Regions from separate parts of the Homo sapiens genome. Here region 1 is linked to region 2. The links come from fine-mapping of genetic effects on gene expression. Tissue or cell type: blood mononuclear cells. Region 2 holds a variant in brackets; the other region holds the start of a gene. All regions are shown on one strand. Distances are between the middles of the regions.

What was found. PIP is the estimated chance that this variant, and not a neighbour inherited with it, causes the effect.
Region 1: it holds the start of PER3, and the variant in region 2 is fine-mapped to the expression of PER3 in blood mononuclear cells (TOPMed, PIP above 0.99). The same link has a PIP of 0.9 or more in monocytes and whole blood.

What each region holds. Positions count from the first base shown.
Region 1 is chr1:7,780,971-7,793,140 of GRCh38, reverse strand. PER3 (period circadian regulator 3) reads right to left here and starts at 8,850. Exons shown (of 22, transcript NM_001377275.1): 1 at 8,765-8,850; 2 at 8,136-8,487; 3 at 7,555-7,700; 4 at 6,305-6,420; 5 at 4,895-5,096. The coding sequence starts at 8,263. VAMP3 (vesicle associated membrane protein 3) reads right to left here. Exons shown (of 5, transcript NM_004781.4): 5 at 11,709-12,170. RefSeq lists a silencer at 8,775-9,384.
Region 2 is chr1:7,805,152-7,817,489 of GRCh38, reverse strand. PER3 (period circadian regulator 3) reads right to left here. Exons shown (of 22, transcript NM_001377275.1): 11 at 8,492-8,597; 12 at 7,469-7,597; 13 at 6,902-7,052. LOC124903833 (a long non-coding RNA gene) reads left to right here. Exons shown (of 2, transcript XR_007065450.1): 2 at 5,886-8,353. Among named protein-coding and RNA genes, the nearest start is that of PER3, 27 kb to the right of the region's middle. RefSeq lists a silencer at 6,015-6,215. The variant A/G (reference allele first, on the strand shown) is at 7,502.

The sequences.
Region 1 (12,170 bases), 24 kb after region 2:
ATGTTCAAAAAATATACACTGAAGGTAGCATAAACAGTGAAAATCCAAAACAACCAAAATATTGAATAAGCAGCCCAGGTCTTGATACTTCTAAGAGACGATCACAGAAGAGTCAGAAAGCATTAATAAAGCACTGAAGATTGGTATAATCTTCTACAGAAAACGGCCTCTACTGTGAGGTCAGTTTGCTTATACCATTTATTCATCACACCAGACACATGAACTCCAACTGCACTCACTAGAAGTCCTGGACCACTGAAAGCTAGACTACGTGATCTAAGACAGCAGACGTGCACCCACAATGCATTTCCATTCCTAGGCTGTAAATATGTGATGCTTGTTTCTAAAAGCGTACTCTGAAGAAGTAATGGTCAGATCCTTCTAAGAGGTTTGTACAAGACATGTTAAATAGAAACATATTCTAATACAGGACCAGAGGTTGACAACAGCTGAGTGGATTGCTTCCTAAGTCCTCTTGATGTTCTATGTGCTCAAAGTAAGGAATCGAAGGGGGTAACGCAGGCATAGCCTATAAAGGGGGTGGCATTAACCAACTGCTCTCAGTATCAATCCTTGAGATTCATAAGGCAAAAGTACAATATAAAGAGTAAACTAGAATTATATCGTGCCTTATGGCATAAGTGAATTTTGAGATCCAAAAGAATTATTTCAGGGCATATTAAGATTTTACATAAAAGGTGATATGGTTTGGCTGTGTCCCCACCCAAATCTCATCTTGAATTGTAGTTCCCATAATCCCCACATGTCAAGGGAGGGACCTGGTGGGAGGTAACTGAATCATGGGGGTGGTTGCCGTCATCCCGTTCTCGTGATAGTGAGTTCTCATGAGAGCTCATGGTTTTATAAGAGGCTTTTCCCCCTTTTGCTTGGCGCTTCTCCTTGCTGTTGCCACGTGAAGGACATGTCCCCGTCTGCCATGATTGTTAAGTTTCCTGAGGCCTCCCCAGCCATGCTGAACTGAGTCAATTAAAACTCTTTCCTTTAGAAATTACCCAGTCTTGGGTATGTCTTTATTAGCAGCATGAGAATGGACTAATACAGTAAACTTGTACTGCAAAGAGTGGGGTGCTGCCATAGATACCCAAAAATGTGGAAGTGACTTTGGAACTGGGTAACAGGCAGACACTGGAACAGTTTGGAGGGCTTAGAAGAAGACAAGAAAATGTGGGAAAGTCTGGAACTTCCTAGAGACTTGTTGAATGGCTTTGACCAAAATGCTGATAGTGATATGGACAATGAAGTGCAGGCTGAGGTGGTCTCAGAGAGAGATGAGGAACTTGTTGGGACTGGAGTAAAGGACACTTCTGCTATGCAAAGAGACTGGCAACTTTTGCTCCTGGCCTAGAGATCTGTGGAACTTTGAACTTGAGAGAGATGATTTAGGTATCTGACGGAAGAAATTTCTAAACAGCAAAGCATTAAAGAGGAAGCAGAGCATAACAACTTGGAAAATTTGTAGCCTGAAGATGCAATGGAAAAGAAAAACCCATTTTCTGGGGAGAAATTCAAGCCTGCTACAGAAATTTGCAGAAGTAACAAGAAGCCAAATGTTAATCACCAAGACAATGGGGAAAATGTCTTCAGGGCATGTCAGAGACTTCACAGCAACCCCTCCCATCACAGGCTGAGGCCTACGAGAGAAAAAATGGTTTTCTGGGCCTGTCCAGGCCCCCACTGCTCTGTGCAGCCTTGGGACATGATGCCCTCCATTCCAGCTGCTTCACCTCCAGCCATGGCTAAAAGGGACCAAGGTACAGCTCAGGCCATAGCTTCAGAGGGTGCAAGCCCTATTCCTTGGCAGCTTCCATATGGTGTTGGTCCTGCAGGTGTGCAGAAGACAAGAACTGAGGTTTGGAAACCTCTGCCTAGATTTCAGAGGATGTACGGAAATGCCTGGATGTCCAGGCAGAAGTTTGCTACAGGGGCGGAGCCCTCATAGAGAACCTCTGCTAAGAGAGATGTGTAAGGGAAATTTGGGTTCGGAGCCCACACAGTCTTCACTGGGGCACTGCCTAGTGGAGCTGTGAGAAGAGGGCCACCATCCTCCAGACCTAAGAATGGTAGATCCACCAAAAGCTTGCACTGTGAGCCCAGAAAAGCCACAGACACTCAATGCCAGCCCATGAAACCAGCCATAAGGGAGGCTGTACCCTGCAAAGCCACAAGGGCAGAGCTGCCCAAGGCTGTAGGAGCCCACCTCTTGCACCAGCATGACCTGGATGTGAGACATGGAGTCAAAGGAGATTATTTTGGAGCTTTAATATTTAATTATTGCTTCAGTGGATTTCAGACTTGCAAGGGGCCTGTAGCCCCTTTGTTTTGGCCAATTTCTCCCATTTGAAATGGGTGTATTTACCCAATGCTTGTACGTCTATTGTACCTAGGAGATAACTAACTTGCTTTGGATTTTACAGGCTCATAGGTGAAAGGGACTTGCTTTGTCACATATGAGACTTTGGACTTGGACTTTTGGTCTAATGCTGGAATGAGCTAAGACTTTGGGGGACTGTTGGAAAAGCATGATTGCATTTTGAAATGTGAGGACGTGAGATTTGGGAGGGCTTAAGAGCAGAATGATATGGTTTGGCTGTATCCCCACCCAAATCTCATCTTGAATTATAGTTCCCATAATCCCCATGTGTGGTGGGAGGAACCCGGAGGGAGGTAATTGAATCATGGGGGCAGTTTCCCCCATGCTGTTCTCATGATAGTAAGTTCTCAAGAGATCTGATGGCTTTATAAAGGGCTTCCTCCTTCACTCGGCTCCCATTCTTCTCCTTCCTGCCATCATGTGTAGAAAGACATGTTTGCTTCCCCTTCTGCCATGATTGTAAGTTTCCTGAGGCCTCCCCAGTCATGTGGAACTGTGAGTCAATTAAACTTCTTTCCTTTATTAATTACCCAGTCTCAGATAGTTCTTTATAGCAGCGTAAGAATGGACTAATACAGAAGGGAAATATCGCAGTAATCAGTAATCAGCAAAAATGAAAAGGCTGAAAAGCCACAGGCAGTGCTGAAGGAAAAATACCTGGGGAAAAAATGGGAAAGACCTGGCAGACAATATTGTGTATGTCCTGTTCACAGCTGTATCTGTATCCGGACTAGTTCTTGACCCACGTGATTATTAAATAAATGTTTACGGAATGAACAGCTAACAAAAGCAGAGAAACAAATACAGACAAAGGTTGAAAATGTGTATTTAGGAAAGGGGATGAGAAATAAAATCAGTATTTTTGAAAGATGGGAAAAGAGATGAGCTAGAAGCAAGCAGGGATGACATGCATGTTTTCTAGAGCTTATGTAAAAATATTTTTAAAAGATGGGGCAATCTATAATTGGAAGAAGAAACACGCAAAGCTACCCTTCATTAAATTAACTACTGGGTAAAAAATTAGAAATAGTAGATAGAATTTCAGATATAAAGATGAAAAAGTTATGGAGATCTGTTTCACAACAATGTAAACATCCTTCACAGCAATGGAGTGAATGCCTAAAAATGATTAAGATGGTGTATTAGGTCCGTTTGCATGCTGCTGATAAAGACAGACCCAAGATTGGGCAATTTACAAAAGAAAGAGGTTTAACGGACTTACAGTTCCACGTGGCTGAGGAAGCCTCACAATCACGGCAGAAGGCAAGGAGGGGCAAGTTACATCTTACATGGACGGCAGCAGGCAAAGAGAGAGAGCTTGTGCAGAGAAACTCCCATTTTTAAAGCAATCAGATCTCATGAGACTTATCCACTATCACGAGAACAGCATGGGAAAGACGCCCTCATGATGCAATTATCTCCCACTGGGTTCCTCCCACGACACATGGGAATTGTGGGAGTTACAATTCAACATGAGATTTGGGTGGGGACACAGCCAAACTATATCAGATAGTAAACTGTATGTGTTTTTTACTACAATGAATTTTTTTTTTAATTAGAGAGAAGGGCTTGGAATCAAAGAGAACGCTGATATATATATATATATATTTTAAAGCTCTTTAAGAGACACTTCACAAAGAATATAAAATAATGAAGGATGACTAAAAAGAAATAAATTAAGATCACACAGGACTGAATGTCACAAAGAAAACTGCAATAGGCATCTTTGAATTATGAAAGAAAAGCATTCCAGAAGGAAAACAAAGTAATAAGACTCATAAGTTTCAGGGGCAAGAAAAACTGTAAGAGAGCTAATGATCTGAATTTTTTTTTTTTTTTTTCCCCAGAAACAGTTTCACGCTTGTCGCCCAGGCTGGAGTGCAATGGTGTGATCTTGGCTCACTGCAACCTCTGTCTCCCGGGTTCAAGTGCTTCTCGTGCCTCAACCTCCTGAGTAGCTGGGATTACAGGCATGCACTACCATGCCTGACTAATTTTTGTACTTTTAGTACAGATGGGGTTTTACCATGTTGGCCAGGCTGGTCTGGAACTCCTGACCTCAGGTGATCCACCTGCCTCAACCTCCCAAAGTGCTGGGATTACAGGCGTGAGCCACCTTGCCCAGCCTAATGATCCAAATTTTATCTCCAAAGTAAAATTTCTCATACAAGGAAATCATGAAGGAGGAAAAACATTTAATTTTAACTTAAAGGAAACAGAGCCTTCATAGCAACTAAACCACTATACAATACGCTGGTAATGAAATAATATTTATGACATATCATCTGTGAAACAGATGTGACAAAATGGAAACAAACGTATTGAGTATGTTATCAGAAGCTTTTAAAATGCTGTTTTCATCACGTGACTTTCTATAACAGGAATAAGAAAAACCAGATAGTGTGCATGTTCTAAATAATATGTTAATTTCTGTACTATTCCTGTAAGAATGAAACTGATCTTGATGAGGAAAGATAGACATCTGAACATTGGTCCTGTTACCTCTTTGGGTCCAGTTGTTCCAGAAAGGAAGCTGAGCTCTGGCAGTGTGCGCGTAGAATACCCTCATGTCTTGAGGTGCAAGCAGGTCAACAAAGTGAGAAGACGCCAGGACATCTTTCTTACGATTCAGGATCAAAGCAGCCTGTTCAGAAATGTGCACTAACCTTCCAGACAGAAATGAAAATACTGCCACAAAGGTATCCTATGAAAAACATTTAAAATAAATGCAAATATTGAGATACTCACTAGCAATATTCCCTGAAAGGTAAATTTCTTCTGGATCTCTAACATGACCAGTATCTTAAAATACACAGGCACAACCTACAAATGCAACAAAACTCCTCAAATAATTTTCTCCAACATGCTTCTTAAATCTTCTCCTAAGACCTGCACTTCACCTACTGAAGGTTCAATTTCTATGCCAAAAAATATACTAGCTTATTCTATGCAGACTAAAATACGTATGGCACATAACTTCTCTGCAAACTGTGCCATACACCTGGGTGGACGGTGTTCTCGTCATCAACGCAGATTCTATGCTTTAAGACACACTGAAGATTCACCTTCTTCAAGAAGCTGTCCTTGACAAACCTCATTACATAAGCATCACTGCTCTAATTTTTTCCATTACACATAAATGAAACTTATTTATAATCAGCAGTTTGTGTTTGCTAGCATTGGCATACTTTCCTCTCTAGCTTTATTTTAAATATCTTAAAAGACAAATATTTTCTTAAGCTATTTTTAAAAATCTCCATAGCACCTCCTACAGTACTATGTACACACCAGTCCATAAAATAAGCACTGTTATAATACTAGGGATTGCGCACGTTCCACTATTACAAAATCTTTAAGTAACAATTATGTTACTTAAAATAAGTAATCTCCACCGTATCAACCAAACATGAAGATTACTCTGTCAAACAAGAAGAGAGATTAAAAAAGATATACTAAAGGTCTCTTCCAAAATTTTAGGAAAAATGACAGCATCTCAACTCACCTGTTCTATAACATCCAGTTGTTACAACTTGAAGTAGTAGGTATTGGAACTAAGAATGATATAAATAGAAATTAACAATTCGGAGATTAGAATAAGGTGCAGGAAATTACTCTGCAGTGTAATTTTTGTTTTCTCTTAATTCAAGAGAGCTTGGGAATGCTAAGGAGCTAGAAGCACCTCATAACCAAAGTCACTGAGCTGCACAGCACACAGAACGGGCTGCTTCTGCTTTTAGATGTTTTCTCTGGCAAGGGCGGAGAAGCTACACCATGCCTCTTTAGCAGTTCCTCCTTTGCTTCTCTCAAATTGTGGTTGCTGAAACGTTGTTATCCTTCTTAAAAGCCTACATCTAGAGCAGGCCCTTAGGAAAAGTCACCCAGGTTGATATGGCAAAATGCATGAATTCTTACTGTGTTTTTGGAAGTGTGTTCTGAAGCGATAGTGGCCAGCTCCTCAAGACTGTACATGCTCACATCTGCCTGAGGTGCTCCATTCTGACTGAGAATCTGGAAAAACTCACTGTTTGCTAAGAAACACAGGGAGATAAACAGGTAGTCCAGTGACAACAGTATCTTTAGGAAACCATTTCATCACTATCAAGCTGGATTATTTTTTTCGGATGAGAACACCTCAGTGCATTTTTCTCAAAAACAGATCATTTTCTGCTTTTACCTAAAATACTGATAGTTGTGCAAACTTAAGATTTGATTTTATGAATTCTGCATGTTCTGGATCACAGGAAGCAAGATACATTTAAGGTACTAACTAAAAATTTCAGATGCATACACAATTTTTTTGCGGGGGGAGCAGAAACAGTACTCTGTCATTCAGGAACATATCATATATGAAGCACTGAGGTTTGTGCTAAAGAGAATATGGCTTTAATGAAATCCCTGGAAATGTCAGAGAGAAAAAGTGTTTACAATGGTTCATTTTTAGTTTGGTAAATTCCTGATATATCATTACTGCATTTTTATCATTATTATTTTTTAGAGACAGAGTCTCGCTCTGTCACCCAGGCGGGAGTGCAGTGGCGTGATCTCGGCTCACTGCAAGCTCCGCCTCCCGGGTTCACGCCGTTCTCCTGTCTCAGCCTCCCGAATAGCTGGACTACAGGCGCCCGCCACCACACCCGGCTAATTTTTTGTATTTTTAGTAGAGACGGGGTTTCACCGTATTAGCCAGGATGGTCTCGATCTCCTGACCTCGTGATCTGCCCGCCTCGGCCTCCCAAAGTGCTGGGATTACAGGCGTGAGGCACCGCGCCCAGCCTCATTACTGCATTTTGAAAGTATGTGTACGGCATGTAAAGGTAACTATTTCGTGGAATGCATTTTTTTCCCATAACTTCCATAGAAGACAATATTTCTTTAAAAGGTCAGCCTTCAAAATGTGCTTATGCTAAACTCTACTCTCTTGCAACACATGAGCAAAACATTGCATAGGTATTATACACTATTATACAGATAAAGTTTTCCTGGTCTTTCACATGTGAACAATTAAGACACGAATGGAATCGGTGTAGATTTGCTCATCTTCCACAAAGCACCAGAAAAAGCTCAAATTATTTGTCTGACTGAGACCCCACTGACCACTCCTCTGGCTGCTTGTATGAGTCCTGGTGCATTCGTAGGATGAAATTTCTCTCCGGCTTGTTTACCTTGAACGCTGTGGACACAGCGGAGAGCATAGTTGAGGGCATCTAGAGTGCTTGGTTTATTGCGTCTCTCCGAGGGGAAGTATTTTTTCATTTCTTGGACAACCATGATAAGTTCTTCAGAAACTCTGTTTCGATCTTGCTGTTCACTGGAAGATAAAAAAAAATTACAACTTCATCCTCTGAAGACAACAGCATCTTGCGGCTTAGGGAACACAAACTGCAAGCCAGGTAAGTTTCTAAGTGCTCTACCGGCATCAGTCCACAGGGTGGTGACCCCTCTTCCTCTAGGTGGGGAACTCGAGGCAAAGCAACTGGTGAATGACAAACATTCTCCACTTACTTTCCCTTAATCCACTTGAGCCCCAACTCAGCTAACTTTTGTAACCACTTTTCCCTCCTGATACTCTTCGGTAATTTTCTTCAGTGTCACGGATCACTTCATCCTACATTGCCCGAGTCTCCCCTTTACACTTTCCCCTGGGCTTGAAAACAAAAGAATAAAAAGATTTAGGTCCCCCTTTCCCTGCTCCAGGGAAGGACAACGAACGCATGGGGCCCTCGGCCTGAAGCCAGCGCGTCACCTGTGGCTGCTGTCCGCCAATTTCCTCTGCAGATGGAACTCGGGGCTCCACCGCTCCCCCGATTCTTCGCCCAGGGCCTCGTCCTTAGCCCCCCGTCTCCCGGGGCCAGGAGCTTCCCCGCGGGGCATCTCGAGGTCTCCGCGGGGCTCCACGTCGTGCTGGGACGGCCCGCAGCCTGCTTCTCGCTCACTTTGCAGTCAGTGACAGACACCGGTTTCTCACTCCGGTCCCCGCCATGGCGTTAGTGAGAACAGGCGGCCACCACGAGCCAGGGGGTCACGCTCATCTCCGAGGAGCTTTTCCCTCCAACATTTTCAAAACCCGGAGCTCGCTCGACTTTCAGGACTCCGGCCTAGGGGGAGGAGACAAGGGTGACAAGGGACAAATGGAACAGACAGTCCGACGCCAGCGGCCCGGCTGGCTGGGGCGCCCCGACCGCGCGGTCCTCACCCCTGCCCCAACTTTCCCGCGCGCCGAGGGATGGGGCCCGGGGAGGCGGGTGGCTCGGAAGCGCCACGCTCCGGGGGCCCCCAGTACCGAGGGCAGGGCTCGCGGGGCTCCTCTGCCGCGCGCGAGTGCCCAGAACTCCCGCCCGGCCGCCCAGAACTCCCGCCCGGCCGCGCACTCACCTGCTGCCCCCGCCCTTGGCCCCGCGCACAGCCGCTCGCCCCCGGGGCCGCCCTCGCGCAGTCTCGAGGCTCGCCGCGTGCCGGTCAGCAGCCGGCGCCGCGCCCCCTGCCGCCGCGTGACCGGTCCCGCCCCCGGGCCGTGCGATTGGTCGTCGGGGCCGACTCCGCAGGCCTCCATTGGCCCTGGGGCGGGGCGCGAGCCGGTGCGCCCGGGTTATATAAGCCAGGGCGAGGGGGCGGGGCCCCCGGGGCGCGTTACATAACGCGCGGGCTCGGGCGGAGGCCGGCGCTCGGCCAATCCCAGCAGGCCGGCGGGCGGGCAGGGGACGGGGTGGCCCTCAGCGGCCTCAGGCCTGTGCCGCGCGACTGGAGTGTCCGGCCCCCTGGCACGGCGCCGGGGCGGAGCCGCTGAAGCCAGCGCAGAAATGATAGGGCCAGGAAGCTGCCAGCCACGTGGGGGCGGGACCCGGGCTCTGTGGGGCGGGGCGGGTCCGGCCCAACCTCCACGTGAGAGGCGGGCGGGGAAGGAGAGGGGAGTGAGAGGCGGGGGCAGAGAGGGGCGAGAGGCGGAGTCGGGGGGCTTGAGTCGGGGTCAGGGGGAGGCTGGAAATGGGGACGGATGGGGGCGAGAGGCGGGGACGGGGGGGCGGATGGGAGCGGGGGTGCCGAGAGACGTGGGGAGCGAGAGGCAGGGGCGGGGGGGCGACGGTGTCGAGGGCGGGGGCATTAGAGGGAGGGAGAGGCGGGGACTGGGGGCGAGCAGGGGCGGCTCAGGCCAGCGCTCTGGGGTCGAGTCCTGGAGTTTGTAGGTGGCTCCCGGCTGCCCGAGCGGGTGTGGGGAGGAGCCCAGGGTGGGGCGGGCTGCCGGCAGCGGTCCTCATCGTGCTTTGGCCGTCTTTCTGGGTTCCCACGGTTTTCACCGCCCGTGACCTACCGAGCCCACCCCAACCGCCCCCATCCTCCGCTAACTCTTTCGGTGAGTGGGGTGGACTTGGAGGAACCGGGCCATAAAGCAGCCCTGGTAAAAAGCCCACCCGATTTTTAGAAACAGATTTTTTATTTTTTGAGACAGGGTTTTGCTCTGTTGTCCAGGCTGGATGGAGTGCAGTGGCGCGATTTTGGCTCACTGCAACCTCCGTCTTCTGGGCTCAAGCCAGTTTCCTGCTTCAGCCTCCCGAGTAGCTGGAACTACAGGTGCAGCCACCACACCTGGCTAATTTTTGTGTTTTTGGTAAAGATGGTCTGTGTTAGCCAGGCTGTTCTCAAACTCCTAAGCCCCAGTGATCTGCTGGCCTCGGTCTCCCAAAATGTTGGGATTACTGGCGTGAGCCACTGCACCGGCCCAGAAACAGAATTTTGACGGTGGAACTTAAAACACTTCCCTGCACTTCCTAAAATTAGATTCATTTGGCAACTGGAGGAAGACAAACGTAAAAGACACTCTGTTTCAGAAAAGAAGTTGTAGAGCCCTTTAAAAAAAATGTCTGAAAGCTCAGTTTAGTATCTCAACATGTTAGAAATGAAAGGTACAGTGCAGAGTGCCGCCCCTCTTCGCTGCCTGGTACAGAAAAAATATTCAGTATTTGTTGGATGGATGAAATTGTATGTAAAGGAAGAGGGGAAAAGTGAGGTGAGTGTTCATGTTAGGTATTGAATAAACCACCTTATATCTTCCAAGCGATACTCTAGGTTGGCTTGCTCTCCTCCGAAGCTGGGTTTTGTCAAACTGCATTCGTTCAGCAAGCATTTATTGCGTGCAGATCTGGGTAGGGACGCTTGGAATCCCAGCGGATAGAACAGTGGCCCAAAGTCCCTGCCACCCAGGGAGTTGACGTTTTATTGAGAAAGCCATACAAACAACCCCATAAACAAGTTCATAAAGCCTAAAGCGATGTGTAGAAAACAAACTACTGGAAGGAAGAGTAACTGGGAGAAAGGTGGAGTGGGGAGGCCAGAGCCTGCTTAGTCAGATCAGCAGGGCAGGCCTCTGGGAAGGCGGATTTCAACCTGAGATGAGAGGCGCCTGCCGCGAGTGGGGAAGGCGGATTTCAACCTGAGATGAGAGGCGCCTGCCGCGGGTGAGGAAGTAGACCCGGCAGAGCTGAAAGTACCTGCAGAAGACCTTTGGAAAGAAGTCAGTTTGCTGATGAGAAACCGAAACAAACTTTATCAGGTCCATTTCTCCCTCAGGGCTTCCTTGCCTGTTTTCATTCATAGCTAACTCTGGCCTTCAAGCCACACCCTGATGTTGAAAGTCTCATGGGCACAAGTCTCTCCGATGTCAACAGCTATACTTTGGTGGAGTACCTTGCTTGGAGAAGAGAGAGCTGGAGAGTCGTGTGACATGAAGTCAGAAAACTAGAAAGGACCAGATCATCGTGGGACCTGTAATTCGGGAAAGGGACTTGGATTTTCCTATTGTAAACATAAGCAAAAGTCCTCTTCCACCCGTATTATATTGTTTCCTAGGGGTTCTACGATAAGAATGGAAATACATTCATGAGGAAAAAAGGATCTACAGGAACAGAGCCATGTGTCTGGGGATGTCCCTCACCTATCCACTCATCTATCCCAGGGTCCATGCCAGCAGCCATCTAGTCTACCACAGACGGGGTCGGCTCTGCACATCACTTTAGAAAGACCATCTATTTAGGGAACTCCAAAGCCACATCCTGAATTTTGGTAATTGTGTAAAAGCCAGTTTCCTCCTCATCGCCTATACTAAAAAGCACTTTTCACAAGGGGAGCGGTTTTCTTCTGTTCACTGGGGTATGCGGAAATGCTGGGTACCAAAAGGGTAGAGTACCTAGAGAGGGGCTGGTGAGAAAAGGGGGAGACAGTTTCGGGGCTTCTAAGGGACAGGTATGGGGAGCAGCAAGGAATGGCATTTTTAGGACTCGGACCAGGTGCAGCTATTCCTCTACAAGGAGCACAGGTGCCACAATCATGTTTATAAACACTTTATTTAGGTGATTACAGTGGGTAAGTTCCCAGCTAAGTGCACAGATAGAAGCGAGGTATTTCTGGGTTAATGCAGGAGCCAGTGGGTTACATGGGTCTGGGCACTGTGGCCAAGGGGCGAGTACCAAGGTTTCTGAGTCAGACCCGGCCAGAGACCCTGCGCTGAAGGTGGACTAATGTCCTAACACTGCCAGCTGCTTTCTCCTCACAGCTGGCCACACCGCAAGGCATCTCTTCAACAGTAAATCATTTCAGCGATGTTAAGGGAACAGACGTTAAAGAAATGGAAGCTGTGTCCTGGTGCGCCTCAGCTGTTGCTGCTTTATAAGTCATAATAGCATGTGAACAAGAGTTTTAGAATATTCCAGTAACAATGAGCCACAGAGCGATAAAGTCTGTGTCTTTCTCCCTCAGTGCCTCCTTGCCTGTTTTCTTTCATACCTGA
Region 2 (12,338 bases):
CCAACTTGCGTACAGTGTTTGTGCACATTCATAATTTTGTATTTAGCCCTAGGAGATACAGTTGAAGCACTGTTTTCCAAAGCTACTGAGCTCCGTTCTTCCCCACCCCTTCCGTGTGTTTAGGCCTGTCATCTGTAATGCAGTTGGACTCAGTTGTCAATGCCTGCATCTCATCTTGGGTTCTCTCTGCATTTTGGGGTGAGATGGAGTGCACAAATCTGTGGGTTTTGGCAAATGCACGGAAAGTTGTGTATCCATCACCACAGTAACCAAAAGAACATTTCCATGACTTAAAAATGTCCTTACAGCTGTCCCTCTGTAGTCACCTCCTTCTCTACCCAATCATAGTAAATACTGATCTGTTTTCCAGAGCTAGAGCATTCCAGAAAGAACGCTTTTCCAGAATGGAATTGTACAATATGTAACCTTTTGGTTCTGCCTTCTTTCACTTAATGAAATGTATTTAAGATTTATATATACAATGGTCTGTGAATCAAGTTCATTTCTCTTCACCGTTAAGTAGCATTTCACTGTGTGGATACACATAGCTTATCCATTCTCCTGCTGAATGACATTTGGGTTGTTTCTGTGTTTGGAGAGTAACAGTGTAATAAATATTCATGTACAGGTTTTTGCGTGAACTTAAGTTTCTATTTCAGTTGGGTAAATCACTAGGAATAGAATTGCTAAGTTACATGGTAAGAGTATGTCTAACTTTATGGGAAATGTCAAACTTTCCCAAAGTGGCTGTACAATTTGGCATTACCTCCAACAATAGGTGAGTGCTCTGGTCACTCTGTGTCCTTGTCAACACTTGTCAGTTTTTTAAAAAAACTTAGCCATTCTCACAGATGTGTGGTGTTATCTCATATGGTTTACATTTTTTTTGTCTAATGACTTAGGTTCAGCATCTTTTCATATGCTATTTACTGTTTATGTATCTTCTTTGGAAAAATGTTTCTAATTGGGTTGTCTTCTTGAGTTTTGAGCGTTCTTTATGTACACTGGATATAACTTCATTATTGTATATATCATTTGCAACTATTTTGTCTTTTCATTTGTCTTATCAGTGCCTTTCAGATAAGATTGGGTACGTTCAGGGTGGTATGGCCATAGTTATCAGTCTCTTTCAAAAAGGAGAAGTTTTAAATTTTGATAAAGTCCAACCTGTCCTTCCTTTCTTTTCTTTTGTTCAGTATGGCTAAAGACTTATTAATTTTATTACCCTTTGATTTAACTTAGTTTCTCTTCAATTCCATTGATATCTGGTCTTTATTATTTCCTTCTTATTGCTTACTTGTGAAACAATTTGTTCTTTTTTCTCTTATTTTTAAGGAGGAAGCTTAGATTACTGAGTCGAGACCATTCTTCTTTTTTCCATATAAACACTCAGTGCTGTAAATTTCCCTTTAAGCAGTGTTTTAGGTATATCCCACATATTTTATGTTCTCTTTTCATTTTGTTCAATTCAATTTTTTTTTTTTTTTTTTTTTTTTTTGAGACGGAGTCCGCTCTGTCGCCCAGGCTGGAGTGCAGTGGTGGGATCTTGGCTCACTGCAAGTTCCACCTCCTGGGTTCACGCAATTCTCCTGCCTCAGCCTCCTGAGTAGCTGGGACTGCAGGTGTGTGCCACTATGCCTGGCTAATTTTTTTTTTTTTTGTATTTTTAGTCGAGACAGAGTTTCACCGTGTTAGCCAGGATGGTCTCGATCTCCTTATCTTGTGATCTGCCCACCTCGGCCCCCTAAAGTGCTGGGATTACAGGCGTGAGCCACTGCGCCCGGCCCAAAATGTTTTTATTTCCCTTGAAACTTCCTCTCTGACCTGTGGATTATTTGTAAGTATGAAGTTATTTAATTTCTGAACATTTGAGGATTTTCTGGATACCTCTGTTACTGATTTCTAGTTTAATCCATTATGGCTAGAGAATAAACAGCTCTGATATTAGATACATAAACATGTAAGACTGTTCTATGTTCCTAAGGAATCAACTCCTTTATCTGTTACACAGTCTCTCTTTCTAACTCTACTAACATTCCTTGTTCTGAAGTTTACTTTGTGTAATAATACAGCTTCCCGCTTTCTTCTGTGTTAGCATGGTATATCTTTTCTACTCTTTTGCTTTTAACCTATGTTTATTTTCACAATGGGTTCTTGTAGATAGTATGTAGCTGGATCTTTTCATCCAATTTGACGATTTCAGTCTTGTAAATTAGTGTACGGAGATTATTAATATTGAATATGAATAACTGGATTGAATATGATTCATATATTCAGTACATTAGTGATTGCTGATGTTGCTGGATTAAAATATGCCAGCCACTAGCTGTTTTCTGTTTGTTCCATTTGCTATTTAAGTGTATTTTTAGAGATGAAGTATGGCTACGTTGCCCAGGCTGGACTCGAACTCCTGGGCTCAAGTGATCCTCTCACCTCAGTGTTCTTAGTAGCTGGCACATAACACCACTCCCGGCTTCAGTCCATTTGGTTTCTGACCACCATTTTGGGTTAAGTGTCTTAAATTCCATTTTACCTCCTCTATTAACTTATTATTTATACTTAAAAAATATTTTCGAATTGTTTTCCTAAAGTTTCCAATATATATTCTTGAGTACTCAGTGTCTACCTCCAAATAATAAAATACTGTTTCAAATACAGTATAAGGAACTAATAGTATATTCCCAATAACTTCCTCCCACCCTCTGTAGTATTGTTGTCACAAAGATTACTTTTATATATGCTATAAATCCAGTTTGCTGGTTTTGCTTTAGTCCATTATCTTTATGATTAATTTTAAAAATTAAAAAATAGAATTTATTTTATCTTCATTTATTCCCTTTCCAGTGCTTTTCACTTCTTTGTGTAGATCCAAGTTTTTGGTCTGGTATCATACTCTTTCTAAGAAATTCCTTTAGCATTTCTTGTGGAGTAAGTGTGCTGGAAATAAATTCCCATGATTTTTGAGAAAATCTTTATATCACCTTTATTTTCTTACATATCGTTTTCACTAGGTATAGAATTCTGTGCTGACAGTTTTTCTGGTTGAGGATGCTACTCTATTGTCTTTTTAGTGTGCATGGTTTCTGAAGAAATGTCTGTTACAATTCTTGTCTTTGTTTCTCTGTATGTAATCTGTCTTTTTTCTCTGCTTTCAAGATTTTCTTTTTTCCATCAGTTTGAATATGATATGCCCAAGTGTTTTGTTTTGTTTTTGTTCTGTATTTAACTTACTTGATGGTCTTTGGCTCAGTAGAAAATTCCTGACTGTTATTTCTTCAACTATTTCTTCTGAGATTCCAATTACACCTATGTTGGACAGTTTGAGGCTGTCTCCAAATTCTTAGAATGCTCTATTCTGTTTGCTTCATTCTTCTTTCTCTGTTTCAGCTTGAATAATGATTCTTTTCCAGGCTGTGTTGAGTGCTATCAAATGCGTTCCTCATCTCTGGCATTGATGTTACAGATGTTACATTTCCATTTGAGGGTTTCTTTCATGCCCATCTCTACGCTGTGATTACCCACCCGGTCCTGCATGGTGCCCACTTTGTCCACTAGCCTTTAATACATCATTCATAATTATTTTACTTTCCCTGTCAGATAGTTCCAACTTCTGTGTCCTCTCTGAGTCTTGTTCTGATGATGGTTTTGTCTCTTGGGAGGTTTCTTTTTTCCCTTCTTGCCCATCATATGCTACATAATTTCTTGTTGAGAACTGTGTAACTTGTGTAGGACACAGAGACTGGGCATGCCTTTCCTTCTTTTAGACCTCTGAATTAATCTATTTTTTAGGCCAGGTTTGAGTATTGTAATGGTTCTACAGCATGTACAACAGCTTTCAAATTCCTCTAGTTATACTTCTTGCCTCAGCTGGTGGCTGGTTTGGTGGGTAATTTTTTTGTTTTTTCTCAGTATCTGCTCCACTTTCAGCTTTTGGTCTTTCCTTGGCATTGTGCCTTCGAGAGGGTCTGTCTTTTGCAAGTTACTTGACTCAGGCTGTCGGTGCACTGGAATCCAGTGCTGCATCTTGCTCCTCCCTGCAAATATGTTTCTCTCCTTAGATTTTAGGCCTGCTGGCTGCTCTGTAACCTCAGCACTCTGAAGTCAAGAAAGGTCTTGAACTTGCCTTTCATCTAGATTTTTCTGTTGTTAAGTCTGGGGTGATGCTGTTTCTGGCTCTCTACATCCCTGAGCAGAAACTGGAAGCAATCTCACTCTGAACCTGTTCAACTTAAGGGTCCTCTTCTCTCACTCAGACATTCCATCACCCTAGACATGGACACTTACTTTTCCCAGATTTCCTCAATGATGTCTCTTGTAGTTGGCCTCTGTACATGTAGCTGAAGGGGCTTTACATATCCCTGTTATTCCTTGCCCTCCCATATTAACTCATACTAACTTTTAAAATCTCTCTTTAAAGCATTATTTGCTCTTAGGTTGTAAGAAAGATAAATATAAATTTTAAACTTAAGTTCCTATAACACATGTAAACAATGATCATGCTTAACTAAGCATTTTCCTTTTCATTGGTATACATCTCTAGTCAATTTCTAACATTTAAATTATAACATTTTTAAGTTGCATCCTCATGTCTCTCAAGCAAAGAGTATAAAGGTTTCTGTAGCTCTTTAAACTTGTAGGTCTCCAAATGTTAATAAAATCAAGATCTCCCAGAAACATTGGTTCTCCAAAGCTGTGCCAAATGGCAAGAGATCTTCCTTCTTCTCCAAAGTCACATCCTGTGTGTGCTATTAGAGCCAAATGTAAGAATCTATCTAAGGAGTGGGAACATTTCAGTTTCTAAAGTAGCTGCATAAGCACACGGAGTTACCTGCAGCTTCAATTTTTTTTTTTTTTTTTTTTTTTTTGAGACGGAGTCTTGCTCTGTTGCCCAGGCTGGAGTGCAGTGGCGCGATCTCGGCTCACTGCAAGCTCCACCTCCCGGATTCACGCCATTCTCCTGCCTCAGCCTCCCAGGTAGCTGGGACTAGAGGCGCCCACCACCACGCCCGGCTAATTTTTGTATTTTTAGTAGAGACGGGGTTTCACCATGTTAGCCAGGATGGTCTCGATCTCCTGACCTCGTGATCTGCCCACCTCGGGCTCCCAAAGTGCTGGGATTACAGGCATGAGCCACTGCACCCGGCCACCTGCAGCTTCAATTTTATAAAAAGTGAATGATGGAATATTGCCATCTACTTAAAGATATAGCCTTCAAAAAAAAATAGTACCGATGGCATTACAAGATCCATGGTCGATGATAAGAAACTGAATAATGCAGCAAGTGAGAAGGGAAGCTATACTGAGATGAGGACAGAGGTCAGTGTGTGAAACTGTGATACTACCATGAGATCCTAGGCCCAGGCAGCTGTGAGCAGGACTAGCAGGACCAGACAATGAGAAAAACATTTAGACACTTTAGCTTTAAAAACCTCCTAAAAGAATTCTCTCTGCTAGGACATGGAATAATAATCTATATAGTAAAAATTGTATTTAAGATAAATTCTTTTGCAGAGGAGAAATGTAGGGGTTTCAAGGGACAATAAAAAAAGCAGCTGTGATTCCTATCTTGTGCCCTTACATGTAACAGCAGAAGAAACCAATGGAATGCTCAACTTCCTATCGAGGTGAAAAGAAAAAAAATGAAAGAACAGGACTTGCTCTGTCTGGGGAGTCCAATGGGCTCTACTATGGTTTGAATGTGTGTGTCCCCCATGACTCCTATGTTGCAACTTAAAACTCAATGTGACAGTGAACAGCCACGGCCTTTAGGAAGTGACAAAGTCATGAGGACTCTGTTCTCATGAATGGGATTTGCAACCTTTCAAAAGGGCTAGAAGGAACTAGCTAAGTCTCTTTCTGCCTTTCTGTCCCTTGTGCCATGTGAGGACACAGCGTTTGTCCCCTTCAAGGAAGTGATGTTCTCTGAGAAGCACAGACCTGGCCCTCGCTAGACACTGAACCTGCCGGTGCCCTGATCTTGGACTTCCTCGCCTCCAAAACTGTAAGAAATAGGTTTCTGTTCTTTATCCATTATCTAGTCACAGGTATTTTGTTACAGCAGTACAAACTAAGAAAGTTCCCAGTGATGTCACCTCTGGGAGCAGCAGTTTGACTTTCTGTGGTGTAAATCATGTCAAGTCCTGAAGCATATAGCTGTTATCATTATTGACCTCAAAAATTTCACCCCACTGTGTAAAACGTCTACATTTGACAATGATAGAGGTTAATAACATTTAGTGACCAAGATCCATCACAACTTCCAAGTTATATTAACATTCAGGAAGAAAAATGAAGGGAAAGTTAGCTAAATTTAAATGTCAATCTAATTTGATTTCTATATTATTGAACATCCCCTATGCCATACAATGCAACTAGGTTAACTTTTCAATATGATGCCAGTTTTACTACTGATCCAGCTCTTTTTGAGTGCTCCTTACCTTGTATTTGAGAAAAGTAAATACATGTCAAGAAAAGAGCCAAAGTTTTTCACTGAATTTAGGTCACAAAGATTTTCTGTTTGAAATGACAGAAAGGGATTTTCATTTTAATATACTTTATTATTTAAAATGCATTCTAAAATCCACTCTTTTTGTTTAAAGAGATGCCCATGTAGGGAGGGAAATCTATAATTCGTTGGTATTTACAGAGAAGTTAATTCTTCAGTAAAAGTGAACTGCAACTGTTACAAATACATTCTAATACCATTTCCTTTCAGAACAGTATTTGTTGCTGCCATTATTATTACTACTATTGCTATTACTATTGCTATCTAGGCAAATCAAGAAATATGAAAAGCAGCAACACAGGGTCATGACTTTATGCTCACGAATCACATACATGACGTCTATGCAGAGAGTGACAGCCCATGGAAGGAGATCCTTGGGGCTGCCGGCTGACTCACCACCACCATTCGCTGACTCACCACCACCATTCGGTTCTGTGCGTGTCCCCGTCACTGGCTTGAATGATGATTTGGTCATTGACTCAATGTAGAGCTGCTGACCCAGATTTTTAATTTTGTTCACACTGGCATAGACCTGCTGCAAGGTCATCTTAGGGAAAGGAATGATAAAATATGTTTCAAAAATTATAAAAATGTCCACTAAAAGATACATAAACAAAATACACTTAGCTTCTGTTTCTTTGAAGATATAATGACTGAAGCACAGTAATCACTTTAATCCAGTTTCCTGCACCATGCCACAGTATACTGGTACCAACAAATTCTAAATAAATCTGTTCACAATATGCTAATTTTTAGAACGCATACAATTAATTCAAATATCACTTTCCAAAGGTGATATTTTCTTTTTACAGACTTTTTTTTCCAAACCAAAATGGATGAAAATATCTGTTATCAGTTGAGGTCTTCAAGTCAGGAATATATACTAAGATGTCACCACATTCAGAACCGAGGTAGTACAGAAAACACGATGCCTGTATAAGAATGTGACATAAGCCCATGCACCTGCTCCGCCTTCGTCTCCTCCACACGGTGCCC[A/G]CTGGCCTCACTGGAGGAGGCGATGCTGACAAGCTGCTCCTGCGACCCGCTGCTCCCCAGGCTCCCGTAGCCGCTGGACACGCTCACGTGAACTGGCTGGAAGGACAAAGAGGAACAAGTCCAGAATTGCTGGCTGTTCAAATGCAGCCACCGCAGAGCTCATCTAGAATCATGTAAAAATTAAGATGACAATTCCTGAAATACTAAATTAGGTGTGTGCAGGTTGGTACTTTTAATGCTGATGCTGACACGAAAGGCACTCCTCTGTCATTTCGGCAATTTTCAAGAGCAAGGTCTTATGTTCTAGTCTAGGTAGGTATTTCCAGGACAACATATTGTTAAAAAGCCATAGTATAATTAATTTTTTAAAACAGGAAAATAAACTCTAGTTCTTTATGCCCAGTTTAGAATACAGAGAACAAACTAACTATATATTATACTTTTTCCAAGAACGTGGCAGGTATTTCATGCACCCTAGAGATTTTATGGGAGACATTCTGAAAACCACCGAGGACAGTTACTCTACACGACACCATTAGTTCTATTTACCACTTATTCATTGAATCTCTTGTAGAAAACACCTTTAGTTATTTCAACACATACATTTTCCCACTTTTACCTTACAATAGTTAAGAGAAACTGAGACCTACCATCCCTCTCCTCCCATCTTTAAAACTGAAATTATTTTAAAAATCCTGAAGCCAAAACCCAAAGGCTGAGCACGCTGGTGCCTTTGGAATGTAATAATTCTCTCAGTCACGTGGTTTGCTGTCTTACAATGGGTTCTTACAAAAATATTCTGTGTAACACAGAATAAGGAACAAAGAATAAAATTTAATTTAAAAACGAAAAGAGAAAGACAAAAATTTCTGGAATGTAGAGGGCAAAGATTTGTCTCCCTTTACAGTTTATTTTTGTGAAGTGAATTTACTGAGCATTAAAACAAAACACAATTCAGGGAACTTTGCATTTTTAACAATCTCACCTTACCTGTAAGAGAAGTTTGTAAATTTGTTCTTGTAATTCTGTTATGTCTTTGTCATTATCGTTCATCTTTTTAATTTTGGTAGCAAAAACATCCTCATTTAGTGGGCTCCTAGAAAATGCCCAGTGAGAGACTGAGTCAAACAATTTAAATGAAGTCGAAAGTGATTTTTAATAGACTATTCCAAGAATAGATCTATGCTTTTACAAAACAATTCTTTGACTCCAAAGAAAAAATATGAGGCTAGAATTCTATTCATGAAGGTACAGAAAATAATAAGAAACAAATGAGACATTAACAGGCCCCTTAAGTTTCTCTAAAGCACTCATCTTTCTGTAATGGTTTCAGTGCTATATATGTACAAATCTGAAATCAGGGACAAGTAACCTCCTTAGCTACTAAAATATCTTCAGCAAATAACTGGTTTCAAAATTTGACAGTAACTGAGTAACTGTAACTTACTCTAAGAATTTTAAAGACCCCAAGTTTTCCAAACAACATTTAATGTTTATTGCACCTAACACTTAAGCTATCTAATTAAGACAGTTCTGCAACCCACCCTAGTGGTGAAAATGTAGCTATTACAATACCTTCGGTCTTATTTATACTCAAATTTTAGAGCATCTTCAATCTATGACCTGAATACAGTGAATGGCACACATGCCAACAGAGAGGATTACAAAGAAGGGAAGGAACTGATGTTTACTTGGGACCTTCTATGTGACAGGCACTGTACTATACTAGTTTTTTTTTTTTTTTTTTTTTTTTTTTGAGACAGAGTCTTGCTCTGTCACCCAGGCTGGAGTGCAGTAGCATAATCTTGGTTCACTGCAATCTTTGCCACCCAGGTTCAGGCGATCCTCCTGCCTCAGCCTCCCGAGTAGCTGGGATTACAGGTGCACGCCACCACGCCTGGCTAATTTTTGTATTTTTAGTAGAGACGGGGTTTCGCCATGTTGGCCAGGCTGGTCTTGAACTCCTGACCTCAAATGATCCACCCGCTTCGGCCTCCCAAAGTGCTGGCATTACAGGAGTGTGCCACTGCACCCAGCCTGTACTAGTTTTTATAACATAGAAGAATACCTGACATTTTGAAAATCCTTATTATTCCAAGTGCTTTACACGTATTTTCTCCTTCACCTGATTAAATACCTTTTCCAGGTGGCCTGGCAGGTAAGGGGGAAGCAGGTGTTCACGAAGGGACCAGAGTCTGGGCTCCAGAGTCCACCCTGTGTGCCACCACACTGTACTGCCTGTGGGTACCTTGGTAAAGCAAGTCCCATTCGTGAGGCATACTGAATCAGCTGCATCAGCTCACGGAGTTCTCACAACAACCCAGAAAGTAGGAATTATCCCCGATACACAAAGTCAGGGGATGAGGTACTCTGAGGAACTGGCCCAAGTTCACATAACCGAGAAGCAGCAGTTAGGATTTGAATCCGCCTACGTCTGACCCCCAAGCCTGGGCTGTCCTTTTTCCATTATGCCAGCCTGCCGTTTCTCAACTGATACATGCAGCTCAGTTACCTAAAAACTGAAACAGTTTCCCAAAGGCAGAAATTATCAAGACAATCATAGGATGCTGACAGTATCGTAAAAGCAGTCAGGAATATCTCCACGTCTAGGGACTATTCACTCACCCTGCACATTTCCATCACAGTGGAACAGCTGCACCAATCGCCTTTCTCTACTTTAGCATCTAGACTGTATCTAGATCAATATCTATCTGCATGGCGTCAGGTACACCATATGTCTGTGGCAAGCAGTACCTGAATATATAACCTTATTTCACAACTTGACACACTATACGTTTTATGTAACTGTCTCTCCCTATATCCCACTGCCAGGTAAGTGCCACGGGGTGAGGTATTTTGTCTACTTTGTTCACTCCTGGATCTTCAGTACCTAGAACAGTGTCTGGTCCATAGCAGGCACCCACTACATATTTGCTAAAGGAACAAATACATGGTTGATTGATCTGGGAATAAAAGTACACCTGGTTCCTAATATAAACACATTGTGAGCTTGAAAACCTTTCAGAGGTATTTGGAATTTGTTTTTTGAGTGAAATGGAAATAGAACAGATTGCTTTATGAGATTTACATATTCCTAGTTGTGAAAATTTCTACAAAACTAAATTGTGTATGTATGTGTGTGTGTGTATGTAATATATATATATATATATATATATTTTTTTTTTTTTTTTTTAAGAGACAGGGTCTTGCTCTGCTGCCCAGCCTGGAGTGCAGTGGTGCAATTCTGGCTCACTACTGCCTTGAACACCTGGACTCAAGCAACCCTCTTGCCTCAGCCTCCTAAGTAGCTGGGACTACAGGCACGTACCACCATGCCCAACTAATTTTTGTTTTTAAATTTTTTGTAGAGAAGGGGTCTCACTATCTTGCCCAGGCCAGTCTTGAACTCCTGGCCTCAAGTGATCCTCCTGCCTCAGCCTCCCAAAGTGCTGGGATTATAAGCGTAAGACACTAAAATGTATTTTAAGTCAGTAACTATGTAATGCAGAACTGATTAATCTGCAGGCAATAAGGAGACAGCCTTCATGAAACAGCAACAAAAATGCCATGAAGTATTTATTGCTTTGCTGTGTATGTGAAGTGAAGTAGGAGTAAGAGAGAAAACTTGGCTGCAGTCTCCACTTTCACTCCTCCCGAAGTGATCCCTGGGAAGGCTACTCTAGTTTACTGAGTATGGATTTTACCTGTAAAATGAGAGCTGAGGACACCTGACCTGCTTGCCTGCAGTGCTGCTGGGAAGGACTGAGAGAGATACAGGCAGGGTCCCTTGCTAAACAGTCTTGCAGCCCCCTTCCCATTTCAACTGTCACACTTACCAAACTCTAGTTATATATGACAGTGCCATTTTTATTTACTGTCTCTCCCATTACAGTGTGGGTTTCCTGATGGTAAAGAGAATGTTTTGATTACCATTACATTCTCAAGGCCCAGCACACTGTCTTACACAGAGCTTTATACTTTATAAATATAATGAATAATTAATATTTTATGAGCAAGATTAATACCTACTAGACCTTAAATCCTTTCCCTCACATAATCTTTGTTGTTAAGATGTAAATACCAGTGTAATTTTTTAAAATACTGAAAACATTCTGAATATTCATTATATGTTGCATAATTTCACATATATTTCATCAAAGAACTGAAAAGAGAGCTTCAGAAATCCAGGCCGTATCTTTAACCCTGACTGGGGCTGGGGAACACAGACCATCAACGAGCCCCAGATGGAAGCCTCATGAAGGCATCTTACTGGCTGCAGTTTCCTACGTTCATGCCAAGCAACCATCGGATTTCATGTTCATTTCCCAATAGGTTTCCGTACTTGGGGGGTATGGGGTGGGGAGAAGGGACAAAGTCCTTTCTGAGCAATACCAATGGTAATTACTTGGCAGCTGTATTTCTTAATAATCAAATTCGTTTTCTAGCACAAATCAGTCTCATGAGTTAGGGCGGCCAGGAGCCCATTTCTTCCATTAAGTTCTACACGTGCTCTGCGGAGGGGCCAAACCCTGGAGTAGAAAGAGGTAAGAGCAACCTTGAGACCTCTTCTCACCATGGCTCGGCATCATCTCTACTGTAATATTAACAGGTGATCAAATACGTCTTACTGGTAGATCTACTGTTCTCAGGTTCATGTTCATGTAGACAATGCTGTATAACAAGATACCAAAAAACATAACTTCTCGATCTCAGCATGATACTGGAGTCAAGTAAAATTTCCATGCTTAAAAAAGATAGACATCAGAGGGAAACCTAGAGCCAGGTCAAAAGGCCTAGAGTTCAATTAAAAATGGACCACAGGGTTGGGCGTGATGGC